Linked DNA regions of Homo sapiens: region 1 is linked to region 2. A link means that fine-mapping ties the variant in region 2 to the plasma level of a protein whose gene starts in the linked region. Region 2 holds a variant in brackets. A gene starts in the other region. All regions are shown on their forward strands.

The links. A credible set is the group of variants that fine-mapping cannot tell apart. PIP is the chance, under the fine-mapping model, that this variant and not a neighbour inherited with it causes the effect. The UK Biobank Pharma Proteomics Project read protein levels with antibody pairs (Olink). The fine-mapping took linkage between variants from a reference panel, not from the people measured, so its PIPs are less certain.
Region 1: PROK1 starts here. The variant in region 2 is the best candidate, but not a certain one, in a credible set for the plasma level of the PROK1 protein (UK Biobank, PIP 0.63).

The regions. Positions count from the first base shown.
Region 1 is chr1:110,449,282-110,453,668 of GRCh38, forward strand. PROK1 (prokineticin 1) reads left to right here and starts at 1,868. Exons shown (of 3, transcript NM_032414.3): 1 at 1,868-2,007. The coding sequence starts at 1,936.
Region 2 is chr6:7,107,014-7,111,400 of GRCh38, forward strand. It overlaps RREB1 (ras responsive element binding protein 1), which reads left to right and starts at 948. Exons shown (of 13, transcript NM_001003699.4): 1 at 948-1,047. RefSeq lists silencers at 167-646, 707-926, 1,717-2,206, 2,227-2,316. The variant C/T (reference allele first, on the strand shown) is at 2,187.

The DNA.
Region 1 (4,387 bases), not on the chromosome of region 2:
TCACTGCAACCTCTGCCTCCCAGGTTCAAGTGATTCTCTTGCCTCAGCCTCCCGAGTAGCTGGGATTACAGGCGTGAGCCACCACAGCTGGCTAATTTTTATATTTTTACTAGAGATGGGGTTTCACCATGTTGACCAGGCTGGTCTCGAACTCCTGACCTCAAGTGATCCGCCTGCCTCTACCTTCTAAGTGCTGGGATTACAAGCATGAGCCACTGCGCCTGGCCTTCCTTTTTAACAGTGCTCAACACAACTGGCCATTTTATTACAAATCTGTTTATTTGTCTATTACCCGTCTCCTTGACTATAGTCAAAATTACATGAGGACAGGGTTTTGTTTTGTTCACTGCTATATTCCCAGTGCCAAGAACAGTGTCTTCTATACAGTAGGCTCTCAATAAATATAGTCAATGAATAAATAAATAGATGAATACTCGCAAAATCGTATGATGTAAATGCTATTCTTATCCCATGTTATAGATAGGAAAACTGAGGCTTGGAGAGATTAGCAATATTTTCAAGGTCATGAAGCCATCGATCTGAATCAAAGCATCTGCCTCTGGGGGCTTAGCTCCCAGCTCCCGTGCTAGTTAACCTTCCTCTCTGCACTCATAAATGCCTATCAGCGTTTCAATGTGGAAACCCTAGACCCCTGTGACATTTGATAAGAAAGGTTTTGTGGATGAATCTGCTTGTGAAATACTACAAACTGCATTTCCCACTTGGTGTTTCAAACACTTATTAGCATATGAAAGGCCCTGAAAAGTTCTGCAAAAAACAAGCCGGTTTGTGTTTCCCAAATTTTTGACTGTAGAAGTCTTTTATTTGTTTATTTGTGTATTAACATATTGCAACACATACCTTGGGAAATGTTGGCTTTTATTACTGTGGAGAGAAGGCAGATCATCTGACAAAGCACTGGGAGCTCTCTCTGGGTCGTATGACACAGAGAGGGCTGGGGTCAGGGGCTTCCCTCACAGGCGGAGGGGCCATCCCGAAAGTCAACTTCCCACCAGACTGGCATCTGAGACCACCGTGTTTATACACTCACGGATAAGGCCACTCTCATGCTCACCCCTAAAACTGGAAGGCCAGTGGTGTGGCTCTGGTACCTTTCAGCCACAGCCCATACCAGCTCGGCTCTGCAGGGTACTGAGAGAGTGTGTGCCCTGTATGTTTGCTGGCTTTCTGCCCTTGGGTCATTGTACCAAGGGACACTTGCTGGTGTTCATCCTGAGCCCATGAGAGAGCAAATCCTTATGTGTGTGTCACTTAGGAACATCAGCCCCACAAGTCTGGTCTTTTTTTCCTCACTGTCTTATGGCTCCTCACTATAATTTTAACCTTTTAGAGAAATAAGGATACCACCTCACCCTCTTCTGTCTTCTCAGCTACCTCTGTGTTGAGCCCATGGTAAATGCCTAGATAAGTCTTGGTGTGAGTGAGAGGGAACCAATAATCTTGTATGTTGCATAGTTTGGTGCAGGGAAGCATAAATGGTGATGTTGCAAATCCCTTAATTCATTACCAGAGGCTTTCCTCTGCCCCAAGTAGGATAGAAGGATACCCAGAGGCAGAAAAGAACATTGAGTGAAATATACATAACTGTCTGAATCACTGCGTTCTTGGGAGAGTTAGAGCAACCGTCAAAGCCCCCCAAGTATCCATTTTTATTGGTTTTGATGTTGATTTGATGTTGTTAGAGATTCAGGTCTCATCTTCGCTTCTGAGATCATCTGAGTAACATCGGTGTTGGAGAAGGGAAGAGCAGAGATGAGGCATCCACAGGCAGCCCTGGATCCTGAGTGTAAACATCTGGGAGGAGGCGGGGGATGCAGGAGAGCCTGGCCTCCCCAGCTTGCCAGGCACAAGGCTGAGCGGGAGGAAGCGAGAGGCATCTAAGCAGGCAGTGTTTTGCCTTCACCCCAAGTGACCATGAGAGGTGCCACGCGAGTCTCAATCATGCTCCTCCTAGTAACTGTGTCTGACTGTGCTGTGATCACAGGGGTAAGTCGCCTAACATTCTCTGTGCCTTGGGTTTTGGGAAGATGTCAGGGTCTGCACGGGTTGTGAGCCCAGGAACCATGCAGGAGGCTCTGTTGGCTCAACACAGTGTGAACCAAAGGGAATGGGGAATTATGCATTAAAGGGATTGCATGCGATTTTCAGACTAGTTAGACCTCACTCTACTAAATGGGATCTGCTTTTGAGAAGCTGTGTATGAATCAAATCCTGTTTTCAATGTGTTAGCAGAGCATTGAACATTTTGAAGTTCAGTCCTTTGGTAAAGTGAAGATTCCTATTAAGTAATAAGGAATTCCTTTATAAAGTGGATTGGCAAACCTTAACTTATCTTTTGTGTGAATTTTAATTTTTATTTATGGTCTGATTCACATATTAATATTAATATTAATTTACATAGCATGTTGACTTAATTAAAGGCAGTAAGCTTAATTAAAGGTGGTAAGCTTATAAACTTCTATTGTATAAACTTAACCTCCGCTTAGAAAGGATATCTTTGAAACTCTTTCACTCTGTGCCTGCCTAGTTAGTTCTGAGAGGAATATGGGTGCCACTAACATTCAGCTGAGTGTACCCCAAAGCAAGCATCCAGATAACAAGTAGATATCCAGTCTCGAAGCAGAGAAGCAAAGGTTCAGCATATGGGCACTGTACAATTGGTTCAAAATATTCAGATCATGGTTTTCTCTCGGAAGTTTGCTTTTACCTCAAACCACCTTCAAATAGGGGCACATGATGTGTTATGGTAGCAGGACCATTCTTACTGAAGCAGAAAGCAATGCTGTACCTGAGAGCTTTCCATATAAAATCCACTGGAAGAAAAAGGTCGGGGAAGCAGGGAAACTAACTTTTAGTTCAGCCTCCACCAGCTTTTTACATGGATAGTGGAAATGTAGAGAAATGCCAAACAATTCCTGGAATTGGGTTAATTTTACCATTCACAGAAAGGACAAATTCTTTCTTTTCTCTTTTAAAGGAAAAACACTGAGTTCAAAAGAACAAATATTAAAGGCGAGTCAAATGCTTTTGAGATCCAAAGCAAAAATAAAAATAATTGTGAAGGCAGAATTATACCTAATGAAGTGTTTACACTGTAGGCTGCCCTTCTATGGGGTAGCTTGAAAATCTGGGAGGGCAAGAACAATGGAGAGAAGCCCCGGCTGCTGCGCGGTGAGGGCAGGAGCAGCGTGGTTGGCCTGGATGCCAGGCTTGCCTCACCACCCGTGCCAGCTCCAGCACTGGCCCAGAGTGACAGCAGGGCAGGCAGATCTGAGAGCGGCAGGCAAACATTTTCACGGTGAAAAGCACAATAGAGAGCACTTTTCCCTAGGTGAGGGAAACCCAGGAAAGACAGGTGAGTGGTGAGAACAGGGCAGTAAGGGGAAGTCAGGAACCCCCAGGCTCCCCACATCCTCCATGTCCTGCTGGTGTCCCACTTCTGATTTTCAGCAGGAGCCCAGGCTCCACCACCTCTACACTCCCCTGCTCCCTGGACTGTAACTGTCCCCACATCCAAGGCTTTATGATCCTTCTTCCAAGAGTGGGACAGTGATGCCCCACCTCTATGGGAGAAGAAGAGTCGACTGGGGTTTCCTTTACCCCAACCCCAAGCTTTTGTGGCCTGGCTGGGTGTGAGACGTGCCCTTGCTGGGCTGGAGACAGGCACAGCTGGGTGCCCACCACCCGTAACTCCTCTGCATGATCTGTGGAGCTGACATCCACTCTTTCCCTCTTGGGTCTGAGCAAGTAGGAGGCTTCCAGGTCCTGCCACGTCCCACACAGCAGCCTGAAGGTGCCCATAGGCTTTTATTGGAGAAGAGTGATCCAAAACCCAGCTTTGCATTTCAGCTCAGAAAAGCCACATAGCATCTCTGAGAATGGCAAGTGTGGATGCTTCTTCAGCAGGTCCCCACCTGAGTCTGGAGCAGTTAAGAGTTCTGTCTTCCCCGGCTCTGGCTTTTATTTAACGTGGGCTCATGTTAAATGTGAGCTTATTTAATGTGGCCTTCTTTACAAATGGTACCTTCCCCAAACCAGGCAGGGCCGCTCAGCTCCTGTTCTGCGATCCTCTCTGGGAATCATGGAAGTCAGTAGAGAAACCCTGGGAGAGGCACCTGTTCACTGGGGTGCTGGCCCCTCTGCTGAGGCTGGGCCACTTGAGGGCCAGGATGGGGGTGCCTCCATGCAGAGGGGAGGGACTGACCACAGTGCAGAGTCAGGGCTGGAGACTCCTGGTCCAAGGCAGCTCAGTACTGACCACCAAGGAATTTGGGCCATCAGGGTCCCTCCCACCTCTGAGAATTCTAATTAATTCAATTCCACCAGCATCCACTGAGCATCTACTTAGCCCTAGAAAAGCTATGCC
Region 2 (4,387 bases):
CGAGCACACTCAGGGCGGCAGCCCGAGTAAGAAGGATGGCCCCGGGAGAGAAACGGCTCGAAGCTAGGGGCGGGGTGAAGCGCCTGCTCCTTAATCTCCTGCCCCATCATCCACTCGCCCCACCTGGATGCAGAGCGAGGACCGCGTGGAAAGGAAACGGCGCGGGCGGGGCTCCCCCTCGCAGATGCCTCGGAGACCCAGAGGGGCGGCGTCAGGCCAGGGCCCCGAGCCCTACGCCCCCCATCCCCCCAACTCCAGCGCCTCTGAGGTGCCCCTCTCGCAATTCCGAGGCATCACCGTGTCTCCCCCGCCTCCGTTAAAATAGTGAAACTGCGGAGTGAAGTGATGGAAAGCCGGGGGCGGGGAGTCGCCCGCGGCGAGGGGCTGCAGGGGAGGGGGCGCGGTGGCCGAATAAGGTGGCCCGCGAGCAACGGGACGATTGGGATCGCAGCCAGTCGCGGCCTCCCGGACCCTTCCCCTCGGGCAGCCCGGCCCTCCCATGGCCCGGGGCGCCTTGGGAGGGCGTAGGGCAAACCTGGGGCTGCGGTGGGGGGTGGGGAGGGGACTCCACCTCCATCCATCCCGGGATGGCAACTGCGGTCACCCTGCTAAAGTCGGGGCGGGGGCGGCGGTCCTCCCCCTCACCCCCCCCAGTCCGAGCGCCGCCGCCGCCGCCGCCGCCGCCGCCGCGGCCGCTCAGTAACACGTCCCCAGGAGACTCGCAGGAGCAACACGTGATGTGTCTACTTATCAGGGTGAGAGGGGGAGAGCGAGACTCCGAGCGTGCGGGCGAGGAAGCTGGGCGGGGGGCCGAGACGGGGGCCGGGACGACGGCTGGGGCGCCGGGGTCGCCAGCTCCTCGCCCACCTCCCTCCCTGTGGGAGAAGAGGAGGAGGGGAAGTGACTGCGGAGTTGATGAACTTTGCACATCCAGAAACGCCATTTTGATTCCTTTTCCGGAACAAGTTTGCATCTCTCCTCGGTCTCTCCCTGAAGCCCACCGGTCCCCAACGCATCATGCCAGGGAGCCAAGCGTCCTGCCCGGCCGTAAGTACGTGCCCCGGATTCCGACTCGCGGTACGCCGGCGGCAGCGAGAAGTCTGGGGCACAGCCGGAGCGACCTTTTAAAGAACTTTGGGGATGGGGAGGGTGAAGTCTGCAGAGCGCGTTGTACTTTTGAAACTCGGTGTGTCCCGGAGCCGGGGACCCGCACGCCCCACTCCGCGCAGCGTGCGCTCGGGCCGGCGGGGCGGCCAGGGATGAGCGGGGCAGCCCTCTCCCCTCGGGCTGCGCGCCGGGCCATTCCTCCTCCTCCTCCTCCTCCTCCCCTTCCTCCGCTCTTTTCCCTTTCCCGAGCCGCCGGCTCTGCCAACCAGCTCCCAGCGCGAGCCGCCGCAGCGCCCCGCCAGCAGGACCTGATGCGCATCCATATTAGCCGTCCGAGCGCAGGAATCCGGCCCGACCCGCGCCGCCGAGTTTATTTTTAACCAGCACCGCCGGGACTCGGATGGTGCGCGCACCGCCGGCCAGAAACATCTTCCCAGCGCTGCTCTCCATCTTCCGCCCTCTCTCCCTCGACATCCTCCCCCCCATGTGGGAGGGGAAACTTTTCTCCTACATACTTTCGAGTCCTTCTCGGGCCGGGAAGCGCGGAGATGACGGCGCCCGCCCTCCCGCCGCCGCCCTAAGGTATCCGGGGGTGCCTGCCCGGGGTGCTCGCGCGGGGGTGCCTGCTCGGGGCTGCTCGGTGGGAGCATCCGCCGCGCCCTGCTCTGCGGACTTTGAACCTCCCGGGCGGACGGCGCCGGCCGGGAGGGGGCCGCGGGCAGCCCCGCGCCCTCGCGGGTTCCCGGCTGGCGGTCGTGGTCACGCCGACCACCGCCCCGGGGGGCCTGGGGAGGAGGGGACCGGGCCCTAGCCGTGCGGGCACGTATTGTTCCCTCGCCCTTCCGTTGGCGGGGTGAGTGTTTTCGTGGGAGCCCTCGGTGTGGAGCTAGCCTGCCTCGCGGGCGGGGGGGGTGGGGGGCTCGGCGCCGTCACGAGCACAGGAAGGAGGCCGGGAGCATCCGAGGCGGGGCCGGCCGCCGGGGCCCGCTCCGCCGCCCAGCTGTGGAGCGCGCTCGGAAACTTTTGTCCGCCGCCCGCTGGACCAGTTTTTCACGAGTTCTGGGGCTTCCCTTCCTCCT[C/T]CCATCCCGGCCCCCGGCGTCTAGCTGGGTGGGGGGAGGGGGCCTGTTGCTGCCCCCCCCGCCCCCAACTTCCCGCACAAGCCTTGGGCCGGGCCCCCCGCGCCCCCTCCCCGCTCGCGGTCTCTTAGGAAACTGCGACCTTAATGGTTGCTAAGGAGCAGGGGAGGTCCTTCCCGTCGCCGACCCCCTCCCTGGGAAGCGGCGTGTTTTCTGGACCGGGCCAAGGGCGCGTCGAGGATGTGACCTGCTCCGCGGCCGCGCGTGAGTGCGGGGCGCGTCGGCCGAGCCCACCGATGGGCGAGGCCACCTTTCTCTCCGGGCGGGGCGGGGAGCTGGGGGACGCGGGGACCCCACGGGGTGCGGGCCCGGGCCGCTTGACAGGCGCCGCGTGCAGCTCGCGCCCCTCGGCCGCCGTGCATCCGTGATGGGTTATAAAAGAGGAGGAAAGTATTTCTCCTTGCTCAGCAGATTTGCCCTCCCTCGCTCCTTACTGGTTAGGAGATAGAACGTGAGCCCAGATCCGGACGAGCAGTTCACATTCCATTACGAAATTCTACACGGCTTCAGAGCCAGCAGCAGCACACATTCGGGGCACTTTGGAGGGGTTTTCTTCGTTTGAGGATGCTCCTGCTGCTGCTGCTTGTGATGGTGGTGGATGTGGAGAGAGACAAAAGGGTGAATAAAAAAATATAACGTTTTGGTATGTTGAAAAACCTGTCCGGGGGTTTTCATTAGTAGAAAATTGAACCCTCTTAGAGTTTAGATTTAAGCTTAGCTCTTTAAAAGCCAGTGGAAATAAAGTTTGCCTGTTGAATGGTGTTGCTGGAAATAGCGAGGAATTTCTGTCTTAAGAAGAAATGATTTCTGCAAAGGCAGAGTTGCTAGTGCATCTCCATTATTTTTGATATTTTTTTTCCCCTTTATATATGTAGTGGACCCTGCATGTGTGCGAGTTGATTCTGAAATAAGTTTAATTGAAGTGGAAGGTGGGGAAAAGAGAACTGCCAAGAAAAGAATGTGGTTTAGTTTTGTTTTTTCACACCCATGAAAATCATCCTCTAGATTTGGTGCTTTTTCAAGTAGGCAGGTATAGTTTCTAAGACATATTTCAACCCGGAAGTCTGAGTTAGATAGAGGCCAAAGTGTTGGCTAAAACCTCTTTGAAAAACAAACGTTGAGTTTTGTGCTATCTTCAAGAGTCCACAGAACTTCTGAAGGAATGGGTTCGAGCTACTCTACAAGTAATTTATACAAAGACAGAATCACTAATTTTAGGGGTGGTGTGTGTGTGTGTGTGTATGTGTTTACCTCCGCCCTTTGGAGGGAGCCTTCTGGGTACCCGCTGATGGGTCCTGCTTTGATGTGCTTTGAGCTTTGGTTACACTGATGAATTAAACATTTGAATGGCTTTAATCAAGTTTTAAATGTGTTAAAAAAATACCTTTCCCCCATTTTTACAAAAGAAAAGGAGAGAAGAACTCTTTGATTTAGTTATTTGCTTAGCTTGTGCTCCATTTTAGGTTAATGAACTTGCATTGTCTTTGTCTTAAAAATACTGCTAAACTGGTTGCATTTTAGAATGTCTTGTTTTTAAAGAGGATTTGCTGGATGTGTAATACTCTTAAGAAATGCTGCCGATGCTTACCGTTTTGTGGAATATCATTCTCTGGGTTTTTCTAGATACTGCTTTATTTCTCATCAGAAAATCAGACTCTAAGCCCTTATGGCAGACAAGTATTTGTTATGTGATGGGGAACATGCGTCTTATTGAGCTGGTACAGGTAGTGCATCCATTCCTAACTAGTTACATCATCCAACAAGCGACCTTTTGATTGAAGGGTCTTTTAAATTTCTTCGGGCAGACTCCCAAGGCCTTATTTGTATCCAACACAGGTACAGCGTGTTGAAGGAAGAAAATAAACCTACACGTATTAGTCCAGCATCTGATCAACAGCAGTTTATTGGTTACCTGCTGTGTGCCAGGCACTGTACAGTGTAGCTGCCTTAGGTCGTTTTTGCTCTTCAATTTTGAACTGTTGCGTTATTCCACTTCTGAGGTCAGTTAGGAAGTCTTTGCTTGCTATCTTATGCTTGCTTGCTAACATCATTTATCACCTTCAGCTAAGGAAATGTCCTAGTTAATGAAGTTTTAAAATGCTACCCTTTTAGGATTTTGCTCAGCATAATTAATATAAATTTAA